Linked DNA regions of Homo sapiens: region 1 is linked to region 2. The links come from fine-mapping of genetic effects on gene expression. A gene starts in region 2. The other region holds a variant in brackets. All regions are shown on one strand. Distances are from middle to middle. Region 1 overlaps NR1D2 (nuclear receptor subfamily 1 group D member 2). Region 2 holds the start of NR1D2 (nuclear receptor subfamily 1 group D member 2).

Region 1 (2,913 bases), 29 kb before region 2:
AGGCCGAGGCAGGAGGATTGCTTGAGCTTAGGAGTTTGAGACCAGCCTGAGCAACATAGTGAGTCTTTGTCTTTACAAAAAAAAAAAAAAATTTAATTGAATGGGCATGGTGACACATGCCAGTAGTCCCAGCTACTTGGGTGGCTAAGGTGGGAGGATCACTTAAACCCAGGTCAAGGCTGCAGTGACCCACGATCATTCCACTGCACTCCAGTCTGGGTGACAGAGCGAGATGCTGTCTCAAAAAATAAAAAGAATGTTGGGCAGGACGTGGTGGCTCATTCCTGTAATCTCAGCACTTTGGGAGGCCAAGGCAGGTAGATCACCTGAGATCAGGAGTTTGAAACCAGCCTGGCCAACATGGTGAAACCTCGTCTCTACTAAAAATACAAAATTTAGCCGGGCATGGTGATTGGCATCTGTAATCCCAGCTACTTGGAAGGCTGAGGCTCAAGAATCACTTGAACCCAGGGGATGGAGGTTGCAGTGAGTCGAGATCATGCCCCTGCACTCCAGCCTGGGTGACAGAGTGGGAGCCTGTCTCAAAAAAAAAAAAAAAAAATTGGATATTGGTTTGTGGGGGTAGGGGGAGGGTCACAATTTTTCAGACAAAACTACTGGCAGAGACCTCTTTCTCTTGACATTTAACTTTGGTCAATCATAAATTATCTTCATAAAAATAAAGCCTTCAGTAATGATTTGAAGAGTCCCTCTTGCCTTTGATATTCAAGTAATGGTTTTTTTAAAAAAAACACTATTTCACTTGATGAAATCGTTTGCCAAACATTTATTAAACATATGTACTGGTTACTGTTCTAAGGTGCTTGGAAATCAGCGGTGAACAAAACAAGAATGCCTTTAAGGAGCTTACATTCTGACAGAGGAAAATAGTCATGTGCCACGTAACAATGTTTCAGTTAATGGCAGACCACATATAAAAGGGTGGTCCCATAATATTATAATGTTGCTGAAAAATTCCTATCGCCCAGTGACGTTGCAGCTTTTGTTGTCGTAACATCATAGCACAACACATAACTAACACGTTTATAGTGATGCTGGGGTAAGCAAACCTATTACACTTAATAATAGTAAACAACTATATTACTGATTTAAGTATTTACTATACTATACTTTTTATCATTATTTTACAGTATAGTCCTTCTACTTCATTTTTTGAGAACTCCTGAACTCAAATGATCCACCAGCCTGGGCCTCACCAAGTGCTGGGATTACAGGCATGAGCCACCTCGCCCGTCCCTTCTACTTAAAAAAAAAAAAAAAAAAAAAAAAAAGGTAACTGTAAAGCAGCCTCAGGCAGGTCCTTCAGGAGATATTCCTGAAGAATGCATTGTTATCATAGAAATATAGAAGGTGATAGATGATGACAGCTCATGCATGTTACTGCTCCTGAAGACCTTCCAGTAGAACAAAATGTGGAGGTGGAAGACAGTGATATTGATGATGATGAGCCTGTGTAGGCCTAAGCTAATGTATGTGTCTGTCACAGTTTTTAACAATAAAGTTTAAGAAGTAAATAAATAAATTATAAATAGAAAAAAGCTTATAGAATAAGGATATAAAGAAAATATTTTTGTATAGCTGTACAATGTGTTGTTTTAAGCTAAGTGTTACTACAAGACTCAAAAAGCTTTTAAAAATTTAAGTTTATAAAGTAAAACAGAGCAAGCTAAGGTTAATTTATTATGGAAGAAAAAAAAATTTTAATAAATT[T/C]AGTGTACCGTACGTGTTCAGTGATTAAGTCTACAGTCATATACAGTAATATCCTAGGCCTTCACATGCCCTCACGATGCACTCACTCATTCACCCACAGCAACTTCCAGTCCTGTAAGCTGCATTCATGGTAAATGCCCTACACAAGTATACCAGCTTTTATCTTTCATATCTATTGTTACTGTACCTTTTCTTTGTTTAGATATGTTTAGATACACAAATACTTATTGTGTTACAAACTGCCTGCAGTACTCAGCACAGTAACATGGTGTACAGGTTTGTACCCTAGTAACAATAGGCTATACCATAAAACCCAGGTGTGTAGTAGGATATACCATCTAGGTTTATGTAAGTACACTCTATGATGTTCACACAATGACAAAATTGCCTAACAATGCATTTCTCAGAACATATTTACGTCATTAAGCGACGCATGACTCTGGTTTCAATCATATGATTAGTAATTTATAATACCGAAAACTGAGAAAGAATGACAGTAATCCCCACAAACAAAATAATCTAGGTGGGCAAAGAAAGAAACAACTGATAAGTTGGGAAGATACCTGAGTGGGAACTAGTATTAGTAGTAGTTGGTTGGACAGGTGTAGGAAGTCACACAAAAAATTTAAAAATGTTTGAAGTTGTTGGTCTTTCAGTGGCTATTTTGTGTTTAGATGACCTATGCTTCGTTATACAACTCAGAACTTCAGGGAAATGGATGCCTATATCTAAAACCATAGATTGTATTAAATTTTTCTAAAGCCTCCATTTCTAAAACCATGGTTTTTAAGATTTCAAGGCCAAAGAACCTAAGGTACAAACCTGGCTGGATGGTAAACAATCTTCTGGAGACTATAATGTTAAGAGTACACATGTTGAAGTGGAAATTCATCTTCTAAATGGTGTACTAAATGCTACACTAGTACTGCAGAGTTTAATTTATGACACTTCTATCTTCTCTCTCCTTAGCTGGTTCTTCATTGCACTCCCAAGCTTGTACTCCTCACCAAATATTCTATTTATTTTCACTTCCTACAGGATGAAAGTCAAACCTTCAACAAAAATCTCTATGAAGACAACTGAAGTCTGTATGTAAATGAGCCTTGACCTCACACCTACATGCAAGTCCTTAATCTTCAACTGGAAGTGGCTGCTGTTACTTTAAACAACCTGAAAAGAAAC
Region 2 (2,913 bases):
AAGCCCCACGCCTTCCCCGAGGCGCCTCCTCCGGCCTGCAGCACGCCCTCGTCCTGCACTTCCTCCTCGGAATCTGCAAGGTATGCAGCTACCAGCCTCCCCAGGCGCCGGTTCGTTTGGTTTGCGCGGGGTCCGCGCCTTGGGGTCACCTCGCGAAAAGAGCGTGCGGCGTCCGGTGCACTGCGGTGTCAGCGCCCGCTTCGGGGACGCCCCGCCGCGGGGGCTCAGCGGGCGCGCACGCGCGGCCTCCTCCGCAGTGTGCAACCCCGCGGGGGAGGAGGGAATCGCGGCGACGTCACTGCCCCGAGGCTTCCAAAGGGGCGGAGCCTCCCGGGAGGCTGCGGCGCTCCCAGCCAGCGCGCGCGCGCGCGCCCCCGCCCCCACGTGTCCCTGCGGCCCCGGGGAATGTGGGTCAGGGAGCCGAGCGGCCTCACGTGTCCCCGCCCGCCGCCGCCGCCTCAGCGCCCATTATGTAATGCCGCGTCACGCGCCCGCCCAGCCAACCGGCGCCCGCGCGCCGCCGAACGTAAACACAGCGCGCACGTGGCTCGCGCGGCCGGGCCATGTGAGGGGGGGGCCGGGCCGGGCGCCGGCAGGCCGCGCTGCGGCTTTGCAGGGAGACAAGAGGGCGGGCGCCGGGCGGCCCGGGGGGCGATGGGAACCGAGCCAGAGGCGGACACGCGGCGCGCAGCAGCCCACCCCGCCCCACCGGCCATGGGGACACCCCCTGCCGCCGCCCCCCAAAGTGCCCCGCGGGCTCTGAGCGCTCCCTCCGGCCATCCCCCACCCGCCGCAGTCCGGTTCTTACCTGCATTCACCTCCATGGTGCCCTCGCGGAGGCGGCCGGGGCCGCCCGCTTCCCGCAGAGGGGGCAGCGCCGCCGCCGCCGCCTCAGCGCCGCGCCGCCCCGGGCTGGAAGCAGCGGTGGTCGCGGGGCCCCCTCATGGGCAGAGCGGGCGGGGCTCCCGGGCCCCAGGCCGTGCAGCGCACAGCAGGCTGCAGCGAGAGAGGGTGGCGGCGGCCGGCGAGCGGCGCTCCTCGCTGGGTCCCTGACAACAAAAGCGGCGGCGCGGCGGCTTCCTGCAGCCAGCGCACCGCGGCGGCGAGGGCGGCTGACGGGGAGGGCAGCCGCGACCATGTGACCCGCGCACACACCCCCTCCCTCCGCCCGCCCTCGGCCGGCCGCTGCGGCGACCTCCGCCCCGCCGCTCCCCTCCCTCCCGCCCGCTTCCCGGCTCCCCGGCTACCCTTTTCTCCTGCGCTTCCCCCTTCTCCCCTTCCTTCTCCTTGCCGAGCCCCTCCTCTTCCTTCGTTTTTCCCCTCCGTGCCGTAAACCTCTTCTCCGTTTCCCTCCGCCGCATATTCCTCCCCTCCTCCTCCTCTTTCCTCTCCTCCCGGCTGCCTTTCCCGCCTCTGGCCGGGAGTCCTCTCCACGCCCTGCCCCCCAACCTGGTGGCTCTTAGGTCAAAGCGGTGGCTTGGCGCCGAGCAAGGGTGATTCTCAGGACCCCGGCTGGGCCGGCTGGTTCGGGCTTGCTCAACCCTTGCGCCCCCCACCCCCACCCCCCGCTCCCACCCGACCGACCTCCAAACGCTGGTCTCTGAGGGCACAGACCCTTCCCTTTCCCTCTGCACCCTCTAGGTGATTTTATCCAATCTCATAGCTTAAGTAGACCTATGTTCTTGTGATTCCCAGATTTATATTTCAAGCCAAGACCTCTCTTCTAATCTCCAGATTCCTACATCCAGCAGCCCGTTTGATTATGCCGCTTTTTTGCATCTCAGATTTTAGACGGGTGTACGCGTGTGTCCGAACTCAGCTAATGTGCAGTCAAGATCTGGGCGTTTCACCTTGAATGTAAATTTTAGATCAAAAGAAAAAAGCTAGACATAAATTGTATGCGTGCTGAGGTGAATTCTGAGGAAAGTGCATTGATGCCCGCAATTTAAACGCATTACTGAAGTAAGATGGGCTGATAGAGGCATGAATAGATGATATGGTAAGATGTTAAACTTAGGCGATGGGGATATGGGTGTTGCTTGTAAAACTCTTTCCAGTTTGCTCTGAAATTCTTCACTATAGAAGGTGGGGAAAATGTCACGTGGAAGACATATTTACATGTGCAACACCCTATTTCCCCACCCCCCAGGTTTCTTCACCATATCAATATTTACTGTTTTGGTAAATCTGCAAGTTCCTGAAGCCAGCAAAATTATGTTTCTCTCCTAACACTCTCACAGCCTTTTATTCTCCATTCAATCCATTAGCAAGTCTGAGCTATTCTACCTTCAAAATATGTTCAATCCCTGTTTCTCACCGTTGGTATTGCTAGAGCAAACCATTATCTCTTGCCTCAGCTACTGCTCTGGTTCCCTAACTAGGAGAGTGCTTCTTGGGTCCTCCTACAGTCACTTCTCCCCAGCAGTCAAAGTATTATTTTTAAAATGTAAATAAGATCTGATTACTCTGCTGAAAACCCTCCAATGGCTTCGTGTTACACTTTGAAAAAATTCAACGACTTAACCTGACCTGCTTCGCCCTGCACAGATGTGGGTCCTGCTTCTCTTTCCAAGGCTGTCTTGATACCCAAACCCTTCTAAACACAGTTCCCTAATCACGGTAGCCCTCTATTCTTCCCTACTTCTGGAATTTATCACCCTCATGTGATGCTGATGGAAGAGTTCCCCAGGCCACGCTTTGTAGCTTGCTTGCTTTTTCATGTATCAACTACCATCTACTTCTACACAGGTAAAATGAGGTTAATATGAACAGTCTAGAAGGCAGAAAAGAAATCATAAAAGAGGATACCACTCTAAAAAGGCTGTGTACTGTATGATTCCAACTATACGACATTCTAGAAAAGGCAAAACTGGGCTGGGCGCGGGGGCTGACGCCTGTAATCCCAGCACTTTG

What was found. PIP is the estimated chance that this variant, and not a neighbour inherited with it, causes the effect. A credible set is the group of variants that fine-mapping cannot tell apart.
Region 1: its variant is the best candidate, but not a certain one, in a credible set for the expression of NR1D2 in monocytes after LPS (Fairfax 2014, PIP 0.54).

Annotation. Positions count from the first base shown.
Region 1 is chr3:23,972,468-23,975,380 of GRCh38, reverse strand. All of the region lies in intron 7 of NR1D2 (nuclear receptor subfamily 1 group D member 2), which reads right to left. Among named protein-coding and RNA genes, the nearest start is that of NR1D2, 29 kb to the right of the region's middle. The variant T/C (reference allele first, on the strand shown) is at 1,732.
Region 2 is chr3:23,943,490-23,946,402 of GRCh38, reverse strand. NR1D2 (nuclear receptor subfamily 1 group D member 2) reads right to left here and starts at 1,117. Exons shown (of 8, transcript NM_005126.5): 1 at 809-1,117. The coding sequence starts at 824. LOC124909354 (a long non-coding RNA gene) reads left to right here and starts at 1,223. Exons shown (of 2, transcript XR_007095845.1): 1 at 1,223-2,748. It also overlaps a transcript of NKIRAS1 not described here. RefSeq lists silencers at 26-567, 64-1,253.